Linked DNA regions of Homo sapiens. The protein of the gene in region 1 interacts with the protein of each later gene in a pairwise test. Each region holds a gene or a part of one and is shown in the gene's direction. Other genes may lie near its edges. The genes, in order: UBE2D4, RFWD3, UBE4A, AMFR, RMND5B, TRIM35 and RNF111.

Region 1 (4,200 bases):
TCTGCATCTTGCTTTTCCCATAGCAATATATCTTGGAAATTGTTCCATATGATCACATTCATGTTTTAAAAATTCACCTCATTCTTTTTAAACAGGTGTAATATTCTGTTGCTTATATATAACATTAATTTAACCAGTAATCAATCTGAAGACATTTAGGTTTTACATCTTTTGTTACAGTGGTTATCCTTACATATTTGAAGTGCACAAGGGTATTTTAGGGCTAAATTCTGAGAAGGGGGGGTCTTAGAAAGGGTGAAGTAGAAAGGTGGGGAGGGTTTGTGGCCTGGCAGAGGGTCCACGGCCTGAGCTTCTCTTTTTCTTTTTTTTTTATTATTATACTTTAAGTTCTAGGGTACATGTGCACAACGTGCAGGTTTGTTACATAGGTATACATGTGCCATGTTGGTTTGCTGCACCCATCAACTCATCATTTACATTACGTATTTCTCCTAATGCTATCCCTGCCTCAGCCCCCACCCCCCGACAGGCCCTGGTATGTGATGTTCCCCGCCCTGTGTCCCTGTGTTCTCATTGTTCAATTCCCATCTATGAGTGAGAACATGCAGTGTTTGGTTTTCTTTTTTTTTTTTTGAGACAGAGTTTCGCTCTTGTTGCCCAGGATGGAGTGCAATGGCGTGATCTCGGCTCACCGCAACATCCACCTCCCAGGTTCAAGCAATTCTCCTGCCTCAGCCTCCCGAGTAGCTGGGATTACAGGCCTGCACCACCATGCCCGGCTAATTTTGTATTTTTAATAGAGATGGGGTTTCTCCATGTTGAGGCTGGTCTCGAACTGCTGACCTCAGGTGATCCGCCTGTCTCAGCCTCCCAAAGTGCTGGGATTACAGGTGTGAGCCACCATGCCTGGCCCAGTGTTTGGTTTTCTGTCCTTGTGATAGTTTGCTGAGAATGATGGTTTCCAGTTTCATCCATGTCTCTGCAAAGGATGTGAACTTATCCTTTTTTATGGCTGCATAGTATTCCATGGTGTATATATGCCACATTTTCTTAATCCAATGTATCATTGATGGACATTTGGGTTGGTTCCAAGTCTTTGCTATTGTGAATAGTGCCGCAATAAACATACATGTGCATGTGTCTTTATAGTAGCATGATTTATAATCCTTTGGGTATGTACCCAGTAATGGGATCACTACTGAATCAAATGGCATTTCTAGTACTAGAGGAATACCTTGAGGAATCACCACACTGTCTTCCACAATGGTTGAACTAATTTACACTCCCACCACCAGTGTAAAAGCATTCCTATTTCTCCACATCCTCTCCAGCATCTGTTGTTTCCTGATTTTTAATGATCGCCATTCTAACTGCTGTGAGATAGTATCTCATTGTGGTTTTGATTTGCATTTCTCTGATGACCAGTGATGATGAGCATTTTTTATGTGTCTGTTGGCTGCATAAATGTCTTCTTTTGAGAAGTGTCTGTTCATATCCTTTGCCCACTTTTTGATAGGGTTGTTTGATTTTTTCTTACAAATATGTTTAAGTTCTTTGTAGATTCTGGATATTAGCCCTTTGTCAGATGGGTAGATTGCAAAATTTTTCTCCCATTCTGTCGGTTGCCTGTTCACTCTGATGATAGTTTCTTTTGCTGTGCAGAAGCTCTTTAGTTTAGTTAGATCCCATTTGTCTATTTTGGCTTTCGTTGCCATTGCTTTTGGTGTTTTAGTCATGAAGTCTTTGGGCCTGAGCTTTTCTGCTGATACATCAACAAAACATCACTGCTTTTTGCATAAAACTTCCTGGGCTTTTGAGTCCTTTCCACCACCCTTGTTATTCCTCAGAGCATACTGCTTTCAGGGAGATGGTATCAATCCCCCTATGTTCAGAATGAGAATCCAGCAGGGAATGGGTCAGGGAACTTCTGGGTGATCACTCACTCCCATATCCCATTAGAGTTTGGGAGTGGGGGTCTGGCTTAGCCTGCACTGTGGGGCCAGGTATGCAGCACACTCCAGGTACTGCCCAGCAGCAGCTGCTTCTGCTTTACTTGGTTCATTTCCCACACGTCCCTGTGGTTTGTCTGATTGGGGATCTCTTGTCTTTGCAGGTTGCTTTCACAACCAAAATTTATCACCCTAATATCAACAGCAATGGCAGCATCTGCCTTGATATCCTGCGGTCTCAGTGGTCTCCAGCGTTGACTGTGTCAAAAGGTAGAGATGCTGATGGCATGCTCTGTGTGCTCTTTTACACATGTTTTTACCCCAGCACTGACTGAGTGGAAATGGAAGCTCAGAGAAAGAAGTCACCTTTCCCAGGTCACATAGCCCTGTCCACTGCTGTGCCCTTAAGTGGATATCCTTACACGCCTACGAGGCAGCACCAGCAGAACTTTGTGCCCCGCTCCCTGGCGCTTCTCAGCAGTCAATTGCCCTGGTGTGCTCAAGACTGTCACATGGGTGCAAGAAGAAAATACTGATTCTACTTATATTTTTTTATCCAAAAATAAGAAAGGCAAATATTACATTACCTTCTCTGTTCCCTCATTTATTCATCTAATAAGCACAAAACGGACTGTGAGTCAGCCCTGAAGGAAGATACAGGGCATGCCTCCGGGGGCCTCGAAGTTGGTGGAGAAATCCTCCCTTCCCAAAATAAATGATGTTGAGCACATGTCTTTGGTTGAAGTTGAAGAAACCAGTCTAAACTGAGCTTAGAAATGCAGATATTCCTTCTGAATTAAGATGGGCTGTGCATGGGCTATGTATGCACGAGAGACCTGAATGTAGATGGTGCAGTATCCTGGCAGGTGGAGCGTGGGAGGATGGTGAAAAATCAACCCAAGAGAAACAGAGCCTGGCCTAAATTTTAAATTTTTCTGTAGAGGAGACAGGGTCTCACTTTGTTGCCCAGGCCATTCTCAAACTCCTGGCCTCAAGCAGTCCTCCCATTGTGGCCTCCCAAAGCACTGGGATTATAGGCGTGAGCCACTGTGCCCAGCCAAGTATCTTAAGAAAGGCAAACCTGCCCCTGTCATTTGTAGCTTTATGTGTGGGGACCTGTGGTCAGAACTTTGATGGACTCACTGAATCCAGTTTGTTTGGAATCATATGGTGAGTCGAAAGCAAAGCCAGGAATGAAAGTGTGCATTTCTCTCTGGGACCCCAAGAATCCAGGCACCACAATTCCTTCTGCTCCTCACCACAGCCCTAGTGGGTGATTCCCTTCCCCTAGGGTTGCTGAGAGCCACATTGAGTGCACATCTTAGAGACGGTGCTGGCACAGAGGAGGATGCATCTGCTTTGCAGTTAGAAGGACCTGGTTCAGAATTTCTTTATTTTTTTTTTGAGATCGAGTTTTGCTCTTGTTGCCCAGGGTGGAGTGCAATGGCGCGATCTCGGCTCACTGCAACCTCCACCTCCCAGGTTCAAGAGATTCTCCTGCCTCAGCCTCCTGAGTAGCTGGGATTACAAGCATGCACCACTATGCCTGGCTAATTTTGTATTTTTTTAGTAGAGACAGGGTTTCTCCATGTTGGTCAGGCTGGTCTTGAACTCCCGACCTCAGGTGATCTGCCTGCCTCGGCCTCCCAAAGTGCTGGGATTACAGGCAAGAGCCACCGCACCTGGTCCAGAATCTCATTTTAATCCATTTATTGGGTGTTCCAAGTCTGTGACCTTGGACAAGTTACTTGAATGCTCTGAATTCTTGTTTCCTTAACAGTAAACAGGACTCCTAGGACTAAATGCCAGAGGTTCATGATGTAGGGTACAGACAAGGATGGGAGGGCAGTTGGAGACTAAGATGGGGTGCTTCAGTGGAGAAGGGGAATGAGAACCAGGATGCACCCAGGAGGGAAGTATCCTAGCACAGCATGCCTCAGGCCACACAGTGAGGACCACCTCGGCTGATACATGGGACGGGGCAAGTGGTGCATCAAGCAATTTAGATTGGGCTGTTGAAGGGAAGACAACTGCTTGGTCAAAATACAGAGTGCAAGTTCAGGGAAGTTTACCCAGGGGTGACCCAGCAGCTTCGTGGCTACAGCTGACCAACCTTTTCTTTTCTTCCCAGTTCTCTTGTCCATCTGCTCGCTGCTCTGCGACCCCAACCCCGATGACCCCCTGGTGCCAGAGATAGCACACACCTACAAGGCCGACAGAGAGAAGTACGTGTCCTCTTTGGGTTGCCTTTGCACCATGGCTGCCCCAGGCAGCTCCATGCAGTACCTGT
Region 2 (4,200 bases), on another chromosome or scaffold:
TAGTTAGGCAGCTGCAGTAGCTCACTCCTGTAATCCCAGCACTTTGGGAGGCTGAGGCAGAAGGGTTGCTTGAGCCGAGGAGTTGAAGACCAGCCTAGGCAACGTGGGAAACCCCATCTATACAAAAAATGTTTAAAACTTGAAGTATCTCACATTGTTCAGTTTGCAGACTTTCTTTCCCACTTATTTTCAGTACTGTGCCACTCTCCATCCTGAGTGTAAGCCTGTGTGGTTCAAACCTCCAGTTTTCTCGTGCATAGGGGGAGAAGGGCTTTGTTCTGTGTTTTGTTTTAGCTGGCTGGTGTTTGAGTAGGAGTCAAGCTAACTGCTTTACTGGCTTTTAACCAGCCCTTCTCTTTTAGCGCCATCTTTCAATATTGCCTTTTGTGGTACCTGGTTTTTACAGTCCCTTTAGTGGGAATCAGCTTGCTTCTCAATAACACACCTCACCCCAACCACTGTGCCCTTTGCAGGCTTTGAGTTTTATCTTTTGGCTCTGCTAAGCAGTCATCAATCATCAGTTTCTCCTTTATGGCCTTAAAAAACTGGTTTGCATATCATACCCTGTTTGCATTTGTGTCGTCCTGGTTAATTTATCCTTTCTTAAAAAAATGTCTCAGGTTGTGGGGGTCATGTTCGTGGGTTTTAGGAATGACTGGAGTGGAGAGAGAAAGATACATATATGTACTTCGTCCACTATGTTTATTAGAATTCCTTCCATTTATTCAGCCTGCACCAGTCTGGCCTCTGACCCCACCACTTCAGGGAAACTGCTTTTTTAGGTCACCTGTCATCCTCATGTTGCCAAATCTAGCGGCCGTTCTTCCCCCCAGTAGCACTTGACACTCAATTGTTCCTTCCTTGAAACATTGTTTTTCCAAGACACCACATTCCCATGTTTCCTCCTACTTTATAATCTTCCTTAACTGGCTTCTTTTACTCTGTTGTACTTTTAACAGTAGTGTCTCTGACTTTAGTCTTCAGCCCTCTTCTGTCATTCTGTTCCTCAGGTGGTTTAATCTGCTTTGATGATTTTAAGAAACATGAGTATTGGCCGGGCGCGGTGGCTCATGCCTATAATCCGAGCACTTTGGGAGGCTGAGGCTGGCAGATCACCAGGTCAGGGGATCGAGACCATCCTGGCTAACACAGTGAAACCCCGGCTGTACTAAAAATACAAAAAATTAGCCAGGCGTGGTGGCAGGCACCTGTAATCCCAGCTACTCGGGAGGCTGAGGCAGGAGAATGGCGTGAACCCGGGAGGCGGAGCTTGCAGTGAGCCGAGATCGCGCCACTGCACTCCAGCCTGGGCAACAGAGCGAGACTCCATCTCAAAAAAAAAAAAAAAGAAGCATGACCATTCTGAAGATTCTTAAAGCTGTCTGTTTGTTTTCATCTCCACTGCTACCACTCTTGCCTAGGTCTCTCTGACCTCTGGTCTGGACTCCCACAATAGCCTCTACACTGGTCACCTAGCTTATGCTCTTGCACCCCTACAGTGCATTCCTAACATAGAAGAAACTCCTTACCAAGGCCCATAGGCCCTTTAATAATGGTGTCCTGTTCATCAGTGAAACCCATGCTCATCAGGGACCTATGCACTGATTTCCTTCTGAGACTCTTCTTGGCTCTTTGCATAGCCAGCTGCTTTTAATCCTTCATGCCTCAGCCCAATTTTCACTCTTTAAAAGAGTACTTCCCTCACAATTGTGTCTTAGTTGGTCCTCTTTGTCTCCTCAACCCCAAACATCATAATCTATAATTTTTTTCATGTATTTGTTTATTGACATCTTACTTGCTAGAATCTAAACTCTGATACATGGGGTCTTATCTGTTTTTGCCTCTAGGGTGTCTTGTCTGCATAACAGGTGCTTAATAACTATTAGTTGAACCCCCATTTCCTCATAAGTCAGATGAAAATAAAAGCACGTGCCTTACTTCACAAAGTAATTAAGGGGATAAGTTATACTGATGTACTTTAAAAACTAGGTGGTAGGGAGGCACAGTGGCTCAGTCCTGTTGTCCTGATGCATGAGGAGGTAAGGCCAGGCATTCAAGACCAGTTTGGGCAACATAGGAAGCCTTCATCTATATAACAAAAAAAAATTTTTTTTTTTAGTTTAAAAACTAGGTGGTAGTTTTCAAACTGATACAATGGAATTAAAGATAGGAAACATGAAAAGAACATAGGTGCTTAATAAATATTTGTTGAATACGCTAACATGATGGAATTAGAGATGGAAAACAAAAATAATGAAAGGGATAGGATAAAGTTTGCTCAGCCTTTTTGGAAACATTAGGTAAGTTTCCATTTTGAGTTAGTAACAGTTAATTTTGCAAGTGTAAAAAATGTCCTTTCTCTATTTATCCCTTGTAACTGTTGATGCTGTGAAAGATTAATATTGCCTGCTAAAATTAGATACTGCATTATATGCATTTGATTTTGGTGAATGTCCATATTCAGCTTGAGAGAACTGCAAAGTGTCTGAGAGATTACTTTTAGACCCAGTAGTTTAATCTCCTTGGTTTATAGATCTTTCTATTTTGGAAGATACTACTATGATCACAGGACTTCATGTTTTCTAAGGGCAAACCGGAAAACTGGTTATAAATGCTTGTTATAGAGAGGAAAGTCCATTACCAAACACTTCTGACTTAAGTAGTTAAAATCTTCTCTTGAAGCTTCTCAGTCTTGCTAAGAATGATATTAAACATAAAATCAGAAAGATTAAATATGATTCTGTCACCTACATAGCATGTTTTATCTATTTTATTAATACTTTTTACAAATACTGTTTCTCTAGTGATGGCTCATGAAGCAATGGAATATGATGTTCAGGTGCAGTTAAATCATGCCGAACAACAGCCAGCTCCTGCTGGCATGGCCAGCAGCCAAGGGGGACCAGCCCTCCTCCAGCCTGTTCCTGCTGATGTGGTCAGCAGCCAGGGGGTACCATCCATCCTCCAGCCAGCTCCTGCTGAGGTGATCAGCAGCCAAGCGACACCACCCCTGCTCCAGCCTGCTCCGCAACTGTCTGTTGACCTGACAGAAGTGGAGGTCTTGGGAGAAGACACTGTGGAGAACATCAATCCAAGAACTTCAGAACAACATAGGCAGGGATCTGATGGTAATCACACCATCCCAGCATCTTCGTTGCATTCAATGACCAACTTCATCAGCGGACTGCAGAGACTTCATGGCATGCTGGAATTCCTGAGACCTTCATCTTCAAACCACAGTGTAGGGCCAATGAGAACAAGAAGGAGGGTATCTGCTTCACGGAGGGCAAGAGCCGGAGGGTCTCAGAGGACAGACAGTGCCAGGTAAATAAATATATGGATAAGTCTGTGATCATTGCTGTACTAGAAATTATGAAACTGAGGCTCTGCCATTCAAGGACTGACAGTGTGACTTTTGGCAAGTCAGGTAACTTCTGACCCCCAGTTCCTCATAGGTGGAAATAAAAGTGCTTGCCTTACTTCACAAAGTAATGAAGGGATAAGTTAAACTGTTGTGCCTTGAAAACTAGGTGGTAGTTTGTTGGCAATCTCTGTAGAGATTGGCTGTTGTTCAGATTGTGTCTTGTACACCAAAAATTCTTTCTTCACTTGCAAGTCTCTACTCACCCAAATTCATTATTCACTGGCATTCCACCTGGGGGCACAATTAATTAATTTTCTTTCATAGTCTTGGTTTGAACTTGCCTCTTGAAGGGCTTAGCTGTCAAGTCTTGACAGGGTTATTATGAAGAATAACAATTGCCTATACCCTGTCCGTTTTTTGGTTTTTTGTTTTTGTTTTTGAGACAGCGTCTCACTCTGTCGTCCAGGCTGGATTCCCGTGGCACAATCTTTGCTCACTGCAACCTCCATCTCCCAGATTCAAGCGATTCTCCTGCCTCAGCTTCCCCAGTACCTGGCATTACAGGCGCGTGCCACCACACCTAACTAATTAAACCTGTCTGTTTTTGGTTTTGTTTTGTTTTGAGATGGAGTCTCACTCTGTCGCCCAGGCTGGAGCGCAGTGGTGCGATCTCCGCTCAGAGAGGGCTTTGTTCAGGGTCTCATAACTATAGAATAGAGGAGTTAGCACTGATATTGGAGCCTGGATCTGCCCTGTTTTCTACATAGGCAGATGGAGGAAGCTTCGACGAAATCCCTTTGTTTTCTCTTTCTTCTTGTTTTTATTATTGTTATTTT
Region 3 (4,200 bases), on another chromosome or scaffold:
CATTCAAAGTGAAATCACTCTTAATTTTGGTATATTTCATTCCAGTTTTATAATTCTAATTGTAAACATGATAACTGCTCAAAAGCAAATAATCAAATTCAGAAAAGCACAAAATAAATACAAATGATCTATTGCCTATCACTTGAAACAATCTATAGTAGTATTCCTTTTAATTTTTGGTGATTTCATGAAAAAGATTTAACTGTATTTCTGTAGACGGTGAGAAACCAAAAGATATATTCAGACAAAGAACTAATATGACAAGATATGTTTTTAAGAAGATATCACTGCTAACAGTATGGAAATTGAATGAGTGTAAGAGGAGACTGGAGACCAAGACATTTACCCTCTTTTTTTTTTTTAACTTCTTTGAGGTTTGGACAAAGAAACCTGTTTGATCCCAGCTGTGCAGGAGCCGAAGTTTCCACAGAACTACAACCTTGTAACAGAGAACCTTGCTCTGACAGAGTACACCTTGTACTTGGGATTTCACAGGTAACTCCTCTGATGTCATTAGGAAAAAACAGTTTAGTTGTGTTGATAACTAGAAGGTAGAAATTGAGTCTTTGGCCAGGCACAGTAGCTCACATCTTTAATCTCAGGATTTTGGGAGGCCAAGGCAGAAGGATTGCTTGAGGCCAGAAGTTTAAGACCACCAACCTGGGCAAGAAAGTGAGACCCCCATCTCTACCAAAAAAAAAAAATTAGCCAGGCATGGTGGCATATGCTTGTGGTCTTAGCTGCTTCAGAGGCTGAGGCAGGAGGATTGCTCTAGCCGAAGAGTTGGAGGCCACAGTGAGCTATGATTGTGCAACTGTACTCCATCCTGGGTGACAGAGTGATAACCTGTTTCTTAAAAAAAAAAGAGAGGAAGAGTCTTACAGATATAATCTGAGCTTATTCTAAAGGTTCACATTAGAATCTAATAGAAAAGGGGCATTGTATGAATTTACTTGTGTTTCATGAATCAGCTTTGTCCAGATTCCTTAAATTTGTTTTTAACTTTTATCGTTGTCGTTGTTGTTGAAATGGATTTTCGCTCTTGTCACCTTGGCTGGAGTACAGTGGCACATTCTCTGCTCACTGCAACCTCCGCCTCCTGGGTTCAAGCAATTCTTCTGCCTCATCCTCCCAAGTAGCTGGGATTACAGGCATGCACCACCATGCCCAGCTGATTTTGTATTTTTTTAGTAGAGATGGGGTTTCGCTGTGTTGGCCAGGCTGGTCTCGAACTCCTGACCTCAGGTGATCCACCACCTTGGCCTCCCAAAGTGCTGGGATTACAGGCATGAGCCACTGTGCCTGGCCTGTTTTTTAACTTTTGACCTGTTAAACTTTAAAAATTAAATCACTGTCTTCCTATTGTGATCTGGGAAAGTGGAATTGTTTTCATTTTATATTGCACTTTCTGCTCTTAAATTTTCATTACTGGCCGGGTGTGGTGGCTCATGCCTGTAATCCTTTGCACTTTGGGAGGCCGAGGCAGGCAGATCACTTGAGCCCAGGAGTTTGAGACCAGCCTGGGCAACATGGCAAAACCCCGTCTCTACAAAATATACAAAAATTAGCTGGGCATGGTGGCGTGTGCCTGTAGTGTCAGCTACTCACGAGGCTGAGGTGGGAGGATCTCTTGAGCCTGGGATGTTGAGACTGCAGTGAGCCGAGATTGCGCCACTGCACTCCAGCCTGGGCAACATAGTGAAACCCTGTCTCAAAAAAAAAAAAAAAAATTTCATTACTACTCCTGGTGATAAAAGATGAAGTTCAGCCGGGCGCAGTGGCTCATGCCTATAATCCCAGCACTTTGGGAGGCTGAGGCAGGCAGATCACAAGGTCAGGAGATCAAGACCGTCCTAGCTAACATGGTGAAACCCCGTCTCTACTAAAAATACAAAAAATTAGCCCAGCTTGGTGGTACGCGCCTGTAGTCCCAGCTACTCGGGAGGTTGAAGAAGGAGAATCGCTTGAACCTGGGAGGCGGAGGTTGCAGTGAGCCGAGATGGTGTCACTGCACTCCAGCCTAGGCGACAGGGCGAGAATCTGTCTCAAAAAAAAAAATTAATTAAAAAAAAGAAAAAGACCAAGTTCTACTCTACAGATAGAGACAAAAGTGGCAAATATTAAGGAAATGTTTATAAGGGAGCTAATGAGATCAATAGGACCACAAAAGACATTAGATAAAGAAGATTCTAGAAATGTTAAGATTTTAGAACTAGAATGTATGACTTCCAAAAACAGTTCTGGTTCTGGCTATTCATTATTCTGTAATTTGTTTTCCTCTGATTTAGCTGATTATGACAGGTATAAGTAGAGGAAGAAAACAGCAACTCAGTCATAGAAAGGGACACTAAGAATAGCAATTTTTAATGCCTTCTCAAGATACCTGAATTGATGCAGAGCATTTTTCAAAACTACTCAGTCAACACATTGCCGGAAGAAGGAAATTATGTCTTTAGAGAGAAATCTCCATCATAGACATTTTAAATAAGACAGTAGATAAAAGTTCAGCATGTGCTTAAGCTGCTCAGCTGCCTAGATTCAAACAAAAAATGAATATCATCTAGTTTCCCAATATTAGCTAGCTCAAGACATTATCTACAGGGCCAAAGGAAATGATTTTGGACTATTATCCATAACTTTGAATTATGTGTCTTCCTTTCAGTAGAGAATATTAGGCTGACCTTTTCTGAAGAATAATTTAATTTAATATTGAACAACAGAGAGCTGGAAGCTGCTCTTAGATTGCATCTCAGGTGGCTACTAGTTTATATGTGGTCATTACTAATCTAGAGTCCCTTTTCACCAGCTTAGTTTTCTACTAACCAAAGAAAGACTATCCATATAACCCCATCAAAGTATGATCATTGCATCAAAGTATGATCATTGCCCTTGTGTGATGTAAAACTATCCTGCTGGCCTTCTTGTACTTTGCCTAATAATTATTTTATGTAATAACAACCCATTCTACACCCTACTCAACCAAGCTGCCTTTCTTTGGATAGTGCATTTCAACTGAAGGCTGCTATTTGCAATTAGCTTCAATTATGTTGAATACTTGGCAGCATTTTCCCATTGCTGTGCACCCTGCCTGTGTCCTGTCAAAAACTTTTGTGAGTGCCTTCTGTGTCATTGCAACTGCAACTCCCTACTATCCTTAAAGAGAAGGCTAGATAAATAATTGAGGATTTGTTTTTTTGTGACTTTCTGTTTTCCCTGACCCAGTCTCTTCTGCTTTCTTGGGGGCAGGTTGCATGATCAGATGGTAAAAATCAACCAAAATCTGCATCGGCTGCAGGTTGCCTGGCGGGATGCTCAGCAAAGTTCTAGCCCTGCTGCTGACAATCTTCGTGAGCAGTTTGAACGACTGATGACCATCTATCTTTCTACCAAGACTGCCATGACAGAGCCACAAATGCTACAAAACTGCCTAAACTTGCAGGTGTCCATGGCTGTTCTACTGGTTCAACTGGCCATAGGCAATGAGGGCTCACAGCCAATAGAGCTAACCTTTCCTTTGCCAGATGGCTACAGCTCTTTGGCTTATGTGCCAGGTAAGCAGGCTCTCCCTTGGGAATGTCCTGTTTATAGCCTTCTGAGTTTAAGTGGGTCACTTTGGAAGTTTAATCCTCAAAATACCCTTTCTTCGTTATCATTCAGTTGTTTTTGGAGAAACAACTCAAACTTAGATAATATCTACTGGTCAAAGTATTAGGGGACTAACAGTTTGTTCCCTCAACCTTGTGTCCCCCTGCTATGCATATCAGAAAATCATCTTCAAAGGATTAAGTGTAATCAGAGTTTTCAGAGCTGTTAGTTTCTATCATTAATATTTGTTCAACTTACACATTCATCTAACTTTCCCTGTCCTTTTTGTAGAAAAAAAATTAGCTCCTGCTGGTTAACTCAGAAGGGAAAGAGTGTGTGTGTGTGTGTGCGTGTGTGTGTGTGTGTGTGTGTGTGTGTGTGTGTGTGTGTGTCAGTGAGTCATTGAGGGGTGGGCAGGTGTTGTCAATCTAATCAGGTTATGTGTTCTTAACCATTGTATTGGCCATATCATGCTGAGTAACAGATTACCCCAAAACATAGCAGCTTAAAACTACAGACTGGGTATGATGGTGCACGCCTGTAATCCCAGCACTTTGGGAGGCCGAAACAGGATGATTACTTGAGCCCAGGAGTTCAAGATTGGCCTGGGCAACA
Region 4 (2,797 bases), on another chromosome or scaffold:
TACAAAGAGGAAACAGTAAACACTACTAGGCCTTCTTCAAATCTGTTGCTGGGTTAAGATTTTCATATCCACCTATGTAATTGGATTATGCATCATTTGTGAAATGGTGCATGGCTTCTAAGGGGTCCATGTCTACATTTCCAGTTTTTTTTTTTTTTTTTTTTTTTTGAGACGGAGTCTCGCTCTGTCACCCAGGCTGGAGTGCAGTGGTGCGATCTCGGCTCACTGCAAGCTCCGCCTCCCGGGTTCACGCCATTCTCCTGCCTCAGCCTCCCGAGTAGCTGGGACTACAGGCGCCCACCACCACGCCTGGCTAATTTTTTGTATTTTTAGTAGAGGCGGGGTTTCGCTGTGTTAGCCAGGATGGTCTCGATCTCCTGACCTCATGATCCGCCCGCCTCTGCCTCCCAAAGTGCTGGGATTACAGGCGTGAGCCACCGCGCCCGGCCTCCAGTTTTTGAATAGCTGGCGCAGCTGAGATATGGATGCTGTGGGCTTGGGGGCATCTGTGGGTACAGCATATTCAGTCCCTGTCTTGATTTTCCACTGCTGCTTCTAGAGTTAGCATGAAGAGTTCTGGATTTTATATATATATATGTATATATAATGGAGGAAAGTATGTATTTCACAGGGAACCTTGCTGTGCAACATTTTTGGTCATTTGTGAAGAAATACAAAGTCCTTGAATAACAATTAGTTAACAGAAACCTCAGTGTAGCCCAGTAAGCTTGTCAGCTCCACTCTCCCTCTGTTCTAATCTCTGCCCTGCCCCGCTCAGGCTGGTATTAGTCAGGCATGCAGCTGCACAGAGCAGGGGTTGCGGTGGGCGGCTGTTTTCTTTCTAACATCTCGCCTCTTCACTCACCATTTTTTCTAACCTGCTCTAGGGTCAGGCTTAGAGGAGAGGGATAGAATAGGACAGTGAGACTCCAGCGTGTGTGTGCGTGTGTGTGTATGTACCTACATGTTGTGCCAACTACGTGTGTCTGTGTGTGTGTGTGTACATGTTATGCCAACTATCTCCCTGTCCCCATCTGGCCCCAGAAACTCCTCCTTTGACCCTGGGCTGGCTATTGATGACCACTCCCACCTTCATGGGGGTCCTGTTACCTCTCCAAGTGGTCCTTTTGGGCACAGTTGTTTTCAACAACCTTAGGTTGGTTCCCTCCTGCAGGAGCCCTATCCAAGCTCCAGGACACACACAGTGTTGTCTGGAGTCAGTGGAAGGTGAACGTGCTCCCGTCACAGCTCCCCTGGCCCTGTATTTTATTGGCTCCTGCCAGTTTCTTTCTGTAGATTTCTCAAGTGTATGCAGCCACCAGTTCCCCCGTCCTTTGACTCTCGGGGATACGAATGGTTCTCTTGAAGTTCCCTCTCGAGCTTAGCTGAAGGCAGGAAAAAGTGAGGGTAGGTCCAGCAGGAACTCTGAAGTAAAACAGCCTGCCTCTCAGCTGCACCCACCTCCATTCTGTCACAGCCTAGAAGCGGGCAATGGGCTGACCCTGGCCAGCGCAGGTCTGCATCTGGGAGCATGAGCAGCGCAGATGGTCAGGCACCTGCTAGGACCTGGGGGTGCCTGGGCATTGTCGTGGACTTTGGAGCTTCAACCAAAGCCAAGGAACCATATAATCCATCCTGTGTCTTTTCAAAAGATCCTTAGGGCTGGGCACAGTGGCTCATGCCTGTAGTCCCAGCACTTTGGGAGGCTGAGGTGGGTAGATTGCTTGAGTCCAGTAGTTTGAGACCAGCCTGGGCAACAAAGCAAAACCCTGTCTCTACAAAAAATACAAAAATTAGCCAGATGTGGTGGCACGAGCCTGTGGTCACAGCTACTTGGGAGGCTAAGTTGGGAGGATCCCCTGAGCCTGGGGAGGTTGAGGCTGTGGTGAGCAGAGATTGTGCCACTGCACTCCAGCCTGGGTGACAGAGTGAGACCCTGTCTGTAAATAAATAAATAAATAGATGCCTAGCAGTTTTCCTTTTTACCTCTGTTTTCAGAGTCAATTGAGGATATAAAATTTGTGCAGAAGATTGGATAAGACTGGTTTAAATGTTTGAGCAATTAGTAGAAGTGAACAGAAAATTCCCAGGATGTAAACTCACGGTTGTCGTGTTGGTAGCGTATTCTAAGAGTGCAGCTTGAAGGTGCTTACGTTTTTCATGCTGGTAATCATTTACTTACCCTCTGATGCCGAACATTCTGTGTGAGTCAGGTCCTGTTCTTAGTACTACTCAAGCCATAGGCAGCAGGCCTGCCCTCAGGGAAGCTGCTGCTCCATTATCCGTAGCTTGTGGTTCCTAGTTTCTGCCTCCCTGCTTGGCAGCAGCCTTCTCTTTGCGTCCAGAACAGCCGTGTCTGGGGTGCCCTGTAGGTGAGGAACCTGCTTAGGAGGGAGGCCTGTGCTCACAGCTGCCTCCTTGCTTCCTGCCCCGTGTCCAGACCGAGCGTGTGCCACTGGACCTCAGTCCTCGCCTGGAGGAGACGCTGGACTTCGGCGAGGTGGAAGTGGAGCCCAGTGAGGTGGAAGACTTCGAGGCTCGTGGGAGCCGCTTCTCCAAGTCTGCTGATGAGAGACAGCGCATGCTGGTGCAGCGTAAGGACGAACTCCTCCAGCAAGCTCGCAAGTGAGTCGCTTCTCCAGACCACCTGGCATAATCCAGATCAAAAACTAGTGGCTGAAGGCCGTTGTCAGGCCGTCTTCTCTTTTTAAACAGATGCCAACAGTGAAACGGCATTACATGCCACCCCAAAACTCAGATTTCAAGCCTCTCTTGAAAAAACCAGAGCATCTGGTAA
Region 5 (4,200 bases), on another chromosome or scaffold:
CAGAAGTGATGGGCCAGCCTCTCAAGTAGTCGAGGAGGTAAGGGTGATGGAGAGCAGGCCAGGTGAGGAAGCAGCATGTACCAGGGCACGCAGCTATGAGACAGCAAGGGTTCTGTGCCTGTCCTCGGGTGTGCGGCGGGTGAGGGTGAGGCAGGAGTGCTGGGCAAGTCCGTCAGGCCAGCATGGTTGGCAGTTATTCCCCAAGCTGTGTTTCCAAATATCAGCCACTCAAGGACGGCCTTTATGGTTTATGTTACTATAGTACGTAGAAAAGCAGTTCCTCTAACTGTAAGAATGTGGCCATAATAACTCTATGAAAATACACGGGCCGGGCATGGTGGCTTATGCCTATAATCCCAGCACTTTGAGAGGCCAAGGTGGAAAGATCGTTTGAGCCCAGGAGTTTGAGACCAGCCAGGGCAACACAGAGAGACCCGTCTCTACGAAAAAAAATTTTAAATTAGACAGGTGTAGAAGCACACTCCTGTGGTCCCAGCTAGTCAGGAGGCTAAAGTGGGAGAATCCCTTGGGCCTGGGGGGATCAAGGTTGCCATGAGCTGAGTTTGTGCCACTGCACTCTAGCCAGGGCAACAGAACAAGAGCCTGTCTCAAAAAAAGAAAATACATACGTGTAATATGACATTATGCAGTATATGGATTTCTAGTTAGATAGTATTGCCAGCTAAGGGCTCTGTGAGGCCTGCTCTCTATTCTGATTTAAAAGGGAGATGAACAAAAATTAAGGCATGAAAAGAGTTGAAAATGGAATAATAATTTTCTCACCATGATTAAGAAAAACCTCGTCCTCACACCAGCCTGCATCCTCCACTGGGCACCCCAGTGGAGTGAGGAGATGGGATGTTATATGCTTACCAAAACATAGGTACATATATACATATATGTACAAAACATATAACATTGATACATGATGTGGGAATGGTGAGAGGGATCTGAAGAGGTGGTCTGGGCACCCTGCCTGCCATGCCACCGTGGCCCAGATGGGGCCTGACCCAGCTGACCCTCCCCAGGCTGAGGCCACCATGGAGCAGTGTGCGTGCGTGGAGAGAGAGCTGGACAAGGTCCTGCAGAAGTTCCTGACCTACGGGCAGCACTGTGAGCGGAGCCTGGAGGAGCTGCTGCACTACGTGGGCCAGCTGCGGGCTGAGCTGGCCAGCGCAGGTGGGTGGCCACCCTTGCAAGTGCCCTGCGACAGCCTCCCTGAGGACATGGGAGACCCGAAGCTACTGAGTGACAGGGTTCCGGAAGGACGATGATGAGGATGTTGGTACCTGCATCTGTAGGCCTCCTTGAAACCGGGTAATGACAGTCTCTGAGCTACTTCAAAAAGCCCAACAAATTATTAATTTACCTGAGATGATTCCCATTTACATTTTGTTTTCAACTTACTTTTCTATTTTTAACTTTTTTTCATTTTATAATTGTGTGTGTGTGTGTGTGTGTGTGTGTGTAGAAACAGTGTCTTTGTTGCCTAGGCTGGTCTTTAACTCCTAGGGGCTCAAGTGATCCTCCTGCCTCAGCCTCCCAAAGTGCTGGAATTATATGCGTGAGCCACCATGCCTGGCCTATTTTTAGCTTTTAAGATTTTAAAGATAATTTCAAATTTACAGACCAATTCCAAGAATAGTATAAAGAACTGATATATACCCTTTACTTGGATTCACCAACTGCTCATATGTTGCCATATTTGCCGTGATCATTACTTTTTAACCATTTGAAAATAAGTTGTAGATAACATAGCCCCAAGCCTTCAGTGTGTATGTCCTAAAATCAAGGGCATTCTCTTACATAAAAACAGCGTAGTTATTAAAACCCAGAAATTGCCAGGCACAGTGGCTCACGCCTGTAATCCCAGCACTTCGGGAGCCCGAGGCCGACAGATCACCTGAGATCAGGAGTTTAAAACCAGCCTGGCCAACATGGCAAAACCCTGTCTCTACTAAAAATACAAAAATTAGCTGGGCATGGTGGTGGGCTGCAGTGAGCCGAGGTCACGCCACTGCACTCCAACCTGGGCAACAGAGCAAGACTCGTCTCAAAAAACAAAATAAATAAATCAATCCAAGAAATGAAACATTGATATAATATTACCTAATAACTATAGTTCACATTTCTTTTTTTTTTTTTGAGATGGAGTCTTACTGTTGCTCAGGCTGGAGTGCAGTGGCGTGATCTTGGCTCAACTGCAACCTCCACCTCCCGGGTTCAAGCAATTCTCGTGCCTCAGCTTCCCGAGTAGCTGGAATTAAAGGCGCATGCCACCACCTGCAGCTAATTTTTGTATTTTTTAGTACAGGTGGGGTTTTGACATGTTGGCTAGGCTGGTCTCGAACTCCTGACCTCAAGTGATCTGCCTGCCTCGGTCTCCCAAAGTGCTAGGATTATAGGTGTGAGCCACCATACCCAGCCAGTGTAGTCAACATTTCAATTTTGCCATTGTCCCAGGAATTTTTTTTTTTTTTTGATATAGAGTTTTGCTCTCATTGCCCAGGCTGGAGTGCAATGGCGCAATCTCGGTTCACTGCAACCTCCGCCTCCCAGGTTCAAGAGATTCTCCTGCTTCAGCCTCGCAAGTTGCTGGGTTTACAGGCCCGTACCACCATGCCTGGCTAATTTTTTTTTTTTTTTTTTTGGATTTTTAGTAGAGACAGGGTTTTGCCATGTTGGCCAGGCTGGTCTCGAACTCCCGATCTCAGGTGATCCACCTGCCTCAGCCTCCCAAAGTGCTGGGATTACAGGTGTGAGCCACCATGCCCGGCTGTTCAGGAATTTTCATAAAGCATTTTAATTTCCAGTCCAAGAACCAATCCAAGATCACACACTGCATTTAGTTTCTCCTGTCTAATCTTTACTTTTTTTAATCTGAGACATTTCTTCTGTCTTCCTTTATCTTCCATGACATTGGTATTTTTGAAGCATTAAGGCCAATTATTTTGCAGAACGTCTCTCAATTTGGAGTTGTCTGATGTTTTCTCATTACTTAGGTTTTGCATTTTTGGCAGTACTTCAGAAGTGATTTGTTTCTCAGTGCATCACACTGGAAGACACAAGATGTTGCTTTATTGCATTATTGCTGTTGTTCACTTTTATTTTGGAGACAAGTTCTCACTTTGTTGCCCAGGCTGCAGTGCAGTGGCACGATCTTGGCTCACTGCAGGCTTGACCTCCTGGGCTCAAGTGATCCTACCACCTCAGCCTCAGAAGTAGCTGGGACCACAGCAGTACACTACCAGGCCCTGCTAATTTTTTTTTTTTTTTATTGTAGAGACAGGGTCTCCCTATGCTGTCCAAGACGGTGTCGAACTCCTGGGTTCAAGTGATCCTCCCGTGTCAGCCTCCCAAAGTGCTGGGATTATGATCCGCTGCACCTGGCCTGATCTTCACTTTGATCACTTAGTTAAGATGGTCGCTGCTAAGGTTTTCCACTGTAAACTTCCTAATTTTTCTTTGTAATCACTAAGTAGTTTGTGGGCTGTAATCCTAGCACTTTGGGAGGCTGAGGCGGGCGGATCACTCGAGCCCAGGAGGTTGAGACCAGGCTGGTCAACATGGCAAAACCACATCTCTACTAAAAATACAAAAATTAGCCGGGCATGGTGGCACATGCCTGTAGTCCCAGCTACTTGGGAGGCTGAGGCATGAGAATCGCTTGAACCCAGGAGGTGGAGGTTGCAGCGAGCCAAGATCGCGCCACTGCATTCCAGCATGGGTGACAAAGCGAGACTGTCTCAAAAAAAAAAAAAAAGTAGTTTGTGGGGAGATACTTTGATACCATATAAATGTCCTGCTCTTTACCAAATTTCAGCCTACTAGTTTTAGTATCCATTAATGATTGTTGTGTGAATTATTACTAAGCTGTCTGCAACATGGTGATTTTTCCTGCTTTGTCATTCTTTATACATTTATTAGTTGACATTCAACTGAAAAGAAGCTTTCCCTTCTCCTTTCATTATTATCACTTCACACTCATATTCTTATTTTATTCAATAGGTTATAATCCATTGCAGTTATTTAATGTTCAAATTGTCTTAGGTCTGACCAGAGGGAGTCCCTGGTTCCTATGTCTTTTTTAAAAATTGAGCTATAATTCACTTACCATTAAACTCACTCTTTTAAAGTACTCTGTCCAGGTGCAGTGGCTCATGCCTGTAATCCCAGCACTTTGGGAGGCTGAGGCAGGTG
Region 6 (4,200 bases), on another chromosome or scaffold:
TTGATTTGTGGAGTCCTCACAGCAGTCCTTTGAGCTTGGTAGTATTTTTTATCCCTCTTATCCAGATGAGGAAATGGAGGTGCAGAGAAGTGAAGGAACATGTTCAAGATCACCTGCTACTAGGTAGAGGTGCTGGGATTTGAACCTGGTCGGCCAGGTGCCAGAACTCTTGGCTGCTACATCAATCTGCCTGAAAACAAATCGTGAAATTTGGGAGACTGTAGAGACTTCTCTGCTTTCATTTTTAAGGTGAGGAGCCTGATAGCCGAAGAGAGAAGGAACTTTTTACCAACTCACCAGTGGATAGTGACAAAGACAAGGCTCCAAACCAGCTCTCCTAACCTTCAGTCCAGGAGGCAAGGTATATAGCAGAAAAAACACAGGCATTCCATGTACTCATTGACTGGGCAGGTGGTTAACTGAACATCTACTTTGTGCAGGGACTTGGACATGCAGGGGACAAAACAAAGTCTCTCACCTTGCAGAGCAAGCATTCCTTCTGCAGAAGTGTACCGAGCACCACTATGCAAGGTAGAGAGGACCTGGAGGTTAAGACCTGCCCTCAGGAAAGAGAAGCTATTACCCTGGATAGTGAGTGCTGAGACAGAGGTGGCCAGGGTGCTGTGATGCCCTGGAATGGAACCTGAGCTGGCAAGATCGGGGGGCTTCCTGGAGGAAATGAGGGGTACTAGAGCCGAGTTTTCAAGGTGATGTTGGGTTAGTTGGGGGAAGCAGGTGGGAACCAGGCAGAGCAACAGTGTGTATCAAGTCTCACAAGACAGAAAACCTGGCTCAGGCCAGACAGAGCTGGTTTCACATGCAACTCTAGCACTTTGGTAAGTCCTTGCAAAGAGGCTATGAAGACCTTGTGCAATGAAATTCATTCTTTCCCTTGCCCCTACCTTCCTGCTTCCAGCTATACCACAGAGCACCTGTCCTGTTAATGAAAATTGTGGGTAACGTGATTTTGTAAAGTGCTTAAGATCTTCAATATGCAATTGAAATTTGTTGCTTAAGGAATCAACTTGTCATTTTTGGGAAATCATGTAGTCTATATGATCACATTCTGGATCCTTTAGTATGAATAAAAACCTATTTTGTGTGTGTTTATAACTAATCTTTAACGTAGGCTGGACGCGGTGGCTCATGCCTGTAATCCCAGCATTTTGGGATGCCGAGGCGGGCGGATCACCTGAGATCAGGAGTTCAAGACCAGCCTGGCCAACATGGTGAAACCCTGTCTCTACTAAAAATACAAAAATTAGTTGGGCATGGCGGCAGGCACTTGTAATCCTAGCTACTTGGGAGGCTGAGGCAAGAGAATTGCTTGAATCTGGGAGACAGAGGTTGCAGTGAGCCGAGATTGCGCCACTGCACTCTAGCCTGGACAAGAAGAATGAGACTCTATCTCAAAAAAGTAAAAAATATAAAATAAATAAATAAAAAATCTTAATGTTATAATGTGATGCTAACATCGAAGCTTGTTTGCTCTCCTGAGCTTGGGCTGGGGGATGCTCCAGATCTGTTGTGGGCCCCTGCTACTGCCCATCTCTGCTCATTCATGTGCTCCTTGGGCTACAGGCAGGCCCCTTGAGTGGTAGTTCTATTTGTAATCTAAGCATATTTAGGGTTAAAATTAATACCAAAAGCAAACAAAATAATATTGTTTAGATGCATTCAAATTCACACTTCTTACATGTCATATTTCCTAGGTGAACCACTAGATGCACAGAAGGGGAAAATGGAATAAAAAATGTGTAGTAAATTTTAAAAAAGGAAAGGAAGAAAAAGAAAAATAGAATAAGCAAGACAAATAGCTCAGAACAAGGTGGCAGATTTAAATGCAAACATATCGGTAATTATGTGTTAAATACTCCAGTTAAATGAAAATGTTGATCTGACTGGATAAGAAAACGAAACCTAATTCTGTGTTGCTTAATATAATTATCTCAGTGAGAAAACATTTGATAAAATTTACCATCTTTTTGTGTTTAAAAAAACAGGAAACTAGAAATGGAAGGAATTTCATTAGTTTGATTAAGTATATCTAGCAAAAAAACTTACAGCAAATATCACATTTAATGGCAAAACATTGAAAGCTTTCTTATTGAGATCAAGAAAAAGACAGGAATGCGCATTATGACCAACTCTATTCAGTTTTGTGTGGGATAGCCTTGTCAATGAAGTAAGCCAATAATTATAAATAAAAGATGTAAGGTTTGGAAAGAAGGGAAGCAAAACTGGCATGTGTAGATAATATGGTTGCATATTTTTGCACTGAGATTTCTATGTGTAGAAAATAAAGATTCTACAGTTAAATCATAAGTATTAATAAGTTTAGGTGAATGCTGAATCCAAAATCAAGATGCAAAACCAGTTGTATTTCTATGTATCACTAGCAAATAGAAAATAAAATATAGGCAGGGAGTTTTACACCTGTAATCCCAGCACTTTGGGAGGCTGAGGCAGGAGGATCGTTTGAGCCAAGGAGTTTCAGACCAGCTTGCACAACATAGTCCAGCCTGTCTCTACAAAAAGTTAAAACAAATTAGCCAGGTGTGGTGGTGCATGCTTGTAGTCCCAGCTACTTGGGAGGCTGAGGTGGTGGGAGGATCACTTGAGCACAGGAGGCTGCAGTGAGCTATGATTGTGCTACTACTGCACTGCAGCCTGGGTGACAGAGGGGGACCCTGTTTTGGGTTTTTTTAATTTAAAAATATGTTTACAATAATATAAAAAATAAGATAACTAGGAAGAAATTAATAAAAGATACGCAAAACTCTGATAGGGAAAAATATACTTCGTTGAGAGCTATCAAAGAACATTAAGTAACTGGTGTGATATATTATGTTCGTGGATTAGTAAAGTCAGTATTTAAGCCTTTCAGTTTTCCCCAAATTGATCTATAGAGACAATATTGTACTAATCTAAATCTCAACATGATTATTTTTATGCAACTTCACAGATTCTAAAATTTATATGACCCTCAAAGGGCCAAAAATTGCCAAGACATTCTTGAAGAGAAACCTATCAGAAATCCTCTCTTTTTTACAGCTATAGAAATTATGGCTGTGTGATGTTGGCACAAGGATAAACAGATGGGCCAGAGAAACAGATGGAGAGAACCAAAAAACAGATCTGTGTCTGATTTAAGACAGAGGTGGCTCTGCAGACCAGTGGGCAGTAATGGTCTTTTTAAATAATGGTGCTGAGACAATGAGCTACCTGGTCACACCATGTGCAAAAATAAACTCCAGGTATCCACATCAGACCTAAATGTGAAAGGAAAGCTATAAAGCTTTGAGAAAATACTACAGAGCTATACAATAATAATGCAAAGCTATAAAGCTTTGAGGAAATAATACGATTGTTTTTGTGATCTCAGTGTAGGGAGGTGTTTCTTAAAACTAGTATACTAATCCTAAAGGAAAAGACTAATAAATTTGGCCATATTTCAATTAAGAAAGATAAATGATGAAGTAGAAAATATTCATTACACCTCTAACTAATCAAGGACATACATTGTGTATATATAATAAATTCCCACAAACCAGTTAGGAAAATGGCAGGCAACGCAATGGAAAAATGGACAATACTTTACTGAGTACTTAAAAATAAACATTGAAGTGGTCAATAAACATTTTCTATTAACATTGCTCTTGCTGTAAAAATTGGTACCACTGCTTTGGAAAACAATTTGGCATTACGCAGTAAAGTGAAGACACATATGGTGGCCCAGCAGTTTTATCCCCAGGAATATATTATGAAGAAACGAGTTCCCATGTGTCCCCAGGAGACATGTACAAGAAGGTTACCTCCTCTGGGTCTAACTTGATCCTCTGTATAATGGGACTCACAGTGCTTAACCTTATAGGGAGAATTCGAATTAAATAATTGAATTAAATAGAATGTTTGTAAAGTGCATAATTTAGTGCCTTGTGTCTAGTACATGCTTAATAGTAACTGCTTGCTAGCAATAGTAATATAATTGTTGGTTAGTCTCATCAGCTGACATCTCAGAGAAGGGCCATTTTAGGATTGGTCTTTTCTGAAGGAAACCAGAACTCTCCAAGTGATTGAAAAGTTTGAGAAGATCAAGGGACTATCCCCTTCCCATCCTTATTGTCCCATAAATTCCTAAGGGCCAGGGTTGAAGGGCAGGGGCTGAACTGTGTTGTTTTGGGGCCTGCACACCTTTGG
Region 7 (4,200 bases), on another chromosome or scaffold:
TAATTTTTTTTTTTTTCTTGAGATAGAGTCTTGCTCTGTTGCTCAAGCTGGACTGTAGCGGTGCAGTCCCAGCTCACTGTAACCTCTGCCTCCCAGGTTCAAGCGATTCTCATGCTTCAGCCTCCCAAGTAGCTGGGATTACAGTCAGTGCGCCACTATCCTGGCTAATTTTTGTATTTTTAGTAGAGATGGGGTTTCACCATGTTGGCCAGGCTGATCTCGAACTCCTGGCCTCCAGTGATCCGCCCGCCTTGGCCTCCCAAAGTGGTGGGATTACAGACATGAGCCACCGCGCCCAGCTTGTATTTAATTTTTGAGGATCTGCTAGACCGCTTCCCAAAGTAGCTTGTATCATTTTACATTTCCATCAGCAATATATGAGGGTTCCAATGTTTTTTTTTTATGCATCCTCTCTAACACTTGTTATTACCTGTGTTCTTTATTACAGCCATCCTGTTTGGCCCCATTCAACTCTTAGATCACATGTACCTGTGTTTTATCATTGTGACTTCTGTGTTCTTGCCTTTAATTAAAGTGATCCTTGTCTGACTGGCTGCCTTCTGTAATTTGCTCATTGCCATGCTCATGTTCACTCATCTTTGTATTCCTGGTTTATCACTGATCCTGCTGAACTACAGATAGCGCGTGATGGCTGATCTTGGATACAGCACTGCCTGTGCTTGTGAATAAGAATAAAAGAAGATAGTGGTTTTGATAGCTTTCTGTAGGAATAGGTCATTCTATGCCTTAATTATTGTCATTTGTTCTGATAGTAAAGTTATATACTATAGTAACATGGGAGACCTGTAAGATTATATATTTCTGTAACCCATTTGTAGAGAGGGAAAATACTTGCTTACTAAACAGCTGTTGTACTCGCTTTTTAGGAACTGGTTTCAAAATGTATTTTATGGGCAAAACAAATCTGTGGTGTCAGAAGTTACAATAGTGGTTAACAGTTTGGTGGGCTGTAGTAATGGGAAGAAGATTTCTAGGGTGCTGGTTATGTTGTTTATCTGTGTGCCAGTTACATAGAGGTGTTCATTTTTTTAGTGTTCATTCATCTATAAACTTAGAATATGTGTGTATGCTATACTTAATAAAAACTTGTTAAAAATATGTTAACATTGTTTATTCATGTTTTGCACTAGTAAAGCTCTTCATTTGTCACATTTACTGCCTTTCTGATTAATATATTTCATTTTGAGTCATGATATTTACTATTACATTATTTTCATATGTACATTGCATTGATGTAAATGCTTTAAATTCAGATCTCTTTTTGGCAGCTCGTAATTTAAGATGTTGAATGATTTAGATAGATTAGCTGTACAAAGTTTGATTTTATGTTCTGCTGTATTGTTTATTTAACTGAATGATCTTCAGCAGCCCACAGTCTTGGCTCTAATCTTTTTGTATTTAAAACTGAAATGCAGTAGTTGTGTCTACTATCAGGAGAATTCAGATTCTCATTAGAGAATTAATAGAGTAGTATGAAGGAAAAAAAATAGAAAAGAGAAGCTTATATTCATTAGCTCATTATTAATAATATCAATCTAATGTAGTAACCATCTAGATGTACAGAAACATTTAATAATAACCACTTAAAAATGTCATACCAGGAGTAAAACATGTTGACTAATTAGTCTTTTGAATTCGAATCCTTTTATTTATATTTCACTGAAATAGGTTTTGAAGTAATTGTTTGATTTGACCAAATATGTTTTGTTGCTGAAGGTAGTGAGATATGCAATAAGATCAGTTTTTGGTTAATAGAAGTTTTTAAGTAGGCTTATGCTCTATATCTACTGTATTTCTAAAAATTGGATGCATGAGTAGAGTGACCAGAGAAAAACGTTTTATAAGAATAGTAAAATAATTCATAACAGACATTTTGTGTACTGATGAGGAAAAGACAGTTCTGCCTTTATAAGGGATCTTCTTGGTGGAATTTGAGAACTCTTCAATTAAATAGTATAATAAAACACATTAAAAATCTTTTAAATATCTAATTTTGTCTTCTAGGCTTTCCTTAAAGTTTCCCATGTCTCAATGGACTCCTGAATATAACGAGCTCTACACCTTAAAAGTGGATATGAAGAGTGAGATTCCTTCTGATGCACCAAAGACACAGGAGAGTCTGAAAGGGATCCTTTTGCATCCAGAGCCCATTGGGGCAGCCAAAAGTTTTCCTGCAGGAGTTGAGATGATTAATAGTAAAGTGGGGAATGAATTCTCTCACCTGTGTGATGATTCTCAAAAGCAAGAGAAGGAAATGAATGGTAACCAGCAAGAACAAGAAAAAAGTCTCGTTGTGAGGAAAAAACGCAAAAGCCAGCAGGCTGGCCCTTCGTATGTGCAGAATTGTGTTAAAGAAAACCAGGGAATATTAGGACTGAGGCAACACCTAGGGACACCAAGTGATGAAGATAATGATTCCTCTTTTAGTGATTGTCTTTCTTCTCCTTCATCTAGTCTGCATTTTGGAGATTCTGATACTGTGACTTCAGATGAGGATAAAGAAGTCTCTGTAAGACATTCCCAGACCATTTTGAATGCTAAAAGTAGAAGCCATAGTGCACGGTCTCATAAGTGGCCTCGGACTGAGACAGAATCTGTATCGGGATTGTTAATGAAAAGACCCTGTTTACATGGCAGTTCGTTACGGAGACTTCCATGCAGAAAGAGATTTGTAAAAAATAATTCCTCACAGAGGACACAGAAACAAAAAGAGAGGATATTAATGCAGAGGAAGAAACGAGAAGTGTTAGCTCGAAGAAAATATGCCTTGCTACCTAGTTCTAGTAGTTCCAGTGAGAATGACCTCAGCAGTGAATCCTCTTCTAGCTCATCAACTGAAGGAGAAGAAGATTTGTTTGTTTCTGCCAGTGAAAACCACCAAAACAATCCAGCTGTTCCCTCAGGTAAAAATGTTTAAGCTGAGTAAAACATGGAACCTATTGCATTGCATTTGTGCTTAATTTTTTGTTTGTGTCTTACTGATTTTATTTAAAGGGACTATCAGGTTCTATTAACTTTTATTTTTAAGTCATATAAATTACCAATTGCAGTATTAAACCATGACTCTAATGCTAAGATAAAAATTTAAAAAATTTCTAGTGACAAAAATAAGTCAGAGTTTTTTGGGAGAATAACCCTTCATTACTTTTTTTTTTCTGAAACAGAGTCTCACTTTGTCACCCAGGCTGGAGTGCAGTGGCGCAATCTCGGCTCACTGCAACCTCCGCCTCCTGGGTTCAAGCAATTCTCCTGCGTCAGCCTCCCAAGTAGCCAGGATTACAGGTGCCCACCACCATGCCCAGCTAATTTTTGTATTTTTAGTGGAGACGGGGTTTCACTATGTTGAACAGGCTAGTCTTGAGCTCCTGATCTCAAATTATCTGCCCACCTCAGCCTCCCAAAGTGATGGGATTACAGGCATGAGCCACTGTACCTGGCCTCATTTATTACATTTTATACATATTAGATTATATTTTATGTATGTTCTTCATTTATGGTACACATTTTTTTCCTTGTGTTTCTTTAATATGCTTGACTGTTATGAATACTTTTTCAGCTACCTGTATGATGGATTCAGCCATAGTAAGAACAGTTCTAGTCACTAAAAAAGACTGGTTAATTTTTTTTCCTTTGTTTTTTTGAGGCAGCATCTGGCTTTGTTGCTCAGGCTGGAGTATAGTGATGCAGTCTTGGTTCACTGCAACCTTCACCTCCTGGGCTGAAGCCGTCCTCCCACGTCAGCGCCTCAAGTAGCTGGGACTACAGGCCCACACCACCACACCTGGCTTATTTTTGTATTTTTTGTAGAGATGGGTTTTGCCAAGTTGCCCAGGTTGGTCTTGAACTCCTTAGCTCAGGCGATCCACCTGCCTTGGGCTCTCAATATTTTTTCTTTAAGTACTATATTCTTGTTGTTTGCTGTTATCATGTTCTTTATAGCTGAAAAGTAATTTCAAGTAACTTTTATTCTAATACTAGGACCCAGAGACTTTTAGTCTCGACAGTGCATATGATACATCAATTAAAATTGGGTAGGGACTATTTCCTATCAGTGCTCTTGAGCCTGTGTGCTCTTGCTCATGCGTGCTGACTCTCTCTCTCTCTCTCACACACACAGTAAATGTGATATTTAAGTAGAATAAGTTTATTTGCAGACAGTCCTGAAATGTATGTTCCATG

What was found.
Region 2: the proteins of UBE2D4 (region 1) and RFWD3 interact in a two-hybrid assay, tested with the Homo sapiens proteins (2 studies listed by BioGRID and IntAct).
Region 3: the proteins of UBE2D4 (region 1) and UBE4A interact in a two-hybrid assay, tested with the Homo sapiens proteins (one large-scale study listed by BioGRID and IntAct).
Region 4: the proteins of UBE2D4 (region 1) and AMFR interact in a two-hybrid assay, tested with the Homo sapiens proteins (2 studies listed by BioGRID and IntAct).
Region 5: the proteins of UBE2D4 (region 1) and RMND5B interact in a two-hybrid assay, tested with the Homo sapiens proteins (one large-scale study listed by BioGRID and IntAct).
Region 6: the proteins of UBE2D4 (region 1) and TRIM35 interact in a two-hybrid assay, tested with the Homo sapiens proteins (one large-scale study listed by BioGRID and IntAct).
Region 7: the proteins of UBE2D4 (region 1) and RNF111 interact in a two-hybrid assay, tested with the Homo sapiens proteins (2 studies listed by BioGRID and IntAct).

The regions. Positions count from the first base shown.
Region 1 is NC_000007.14:43,946,558-43,950,757, forward strand, and holds part of UBE2D4 (ubiquitin-conjugating enzyme E2 D4), read left to right. Parts: intron 1-2,074; coding exon 2,075-2,180; intron 2,181-4,041; coding exon 4,042-4,135; intron 4,136-4,200. UniProt on the Homo sapiens protein: Accepts ubiquitin from the E1 complex and catalyzes its covalent attachment to other proteins. In vitro able to promote polyubiquitination using all 7 ubiquitin Lys residues, but may prefer 'Lys-11' and 'Lys-48'-linked polyubiquitination.
Region 2 is NC_000016.10:74,660,056-74,664,255, reverse strand, and holds part of RFWD3 (E3 ubiquitin-protein ligase RFWD3), read left to right. Parts: exon of another isoform or gene 1-2,300; intron 2,301-2,802; exon of another isoform or gene 2,803-2,804; 5' UTR 2,805-2,806; coding exon 2,807-3,324; intron 3,325-4,200. UniProt on the Homo sapiens protein: E3 ubiquitin-protein ligase required for the repair of DNA interstrand cross-links (ICL) in response to DNA damage. Plays a key role in RPA-mediated DNA damage signaling and repair.
Region 3 is NC_000011.10:118,376,200-118,380,399, forward strand, and holds part of UBE4A (ubiquitin conjugation factor E4 A), read left to right. Parts: intron 1-374; coding exon 375-495; intron 496-3,246; coding exon 3,247-3,551; intron 3,552-4,200.
Region 4 is NC_000016.10:56,363,749-56,366,545, reverse strand, and holds part of AMFR (E3 ubiquitin-protein ligase AMFR), read left to right. Parts: intron 1-2,440; coding exon 2,441-2,625; intron 2,626-2,797. UniProt on the Homo sapiens protein: E3 ubiquitin-protein ligase that mediates the polyubiquitination of lysine and cysteine residues on target proteins, such as CD3D, CYP3A4, CFTR, INSIG1, SOAT2/ACAT2 and APOB for proteasomal degradation.
Region 5 is NC_000005.10:178,137,080-178,141,279, forward strand, and holds part of RMND5B (E3 ubiquitin-protein transferase RMND5B), read left to right. Parts: intron 1-1,028; 5' UTR 1,029-1,040; coding exon 1,041-1,179; intron 1,180-1,203; exon of another isoform or gene 1,204-1,317; intron 1,318-4,200. UniProt on the Homo sapiens protein: Core component of the CTLH E3 ubiquitin-protein ligase complex that selectively accepts ubiquitin from UBE2H and mediates ubiquitination and subsequent proteasomal degradation of the transcription factor HBP1.
Region 6 is NC_000008.11:27,300,922-27,305,121, reverse strand, and holds part of TRIM35 (E3 ubiquitin-protein ligase TRIM35), read left to right. Parts: intron 1-278; exon of another isoform or gene 279-361; intron 362-4,200. UniProt on the Homo sapiens protein: E3 ubiquitin-protein ligase that participates in multiple biological processes including cell death, glucose metabolism, and in particular, the innate immune response.
Region 7 is NC_000015.10:59,028,779-59,032,978, forward strand, and holds part of RNF111 (E3 ubiquitin-protein ligase Arkadia), read left to right. Parts: intron 1-2,025; coding exon of another isoform or gene 2,026-2,044; coding exon 2,045-2,924; intron 2,925-4,200. UniProt on the Homo sapiens protein: E3 ubiquitin-protein ligase. Required for mesoderm patterning during embryonic development. Acts as an enhancer of the transcriptional responses of the SMAD2/SMAD3 effectors, which are activated downstream of BMP.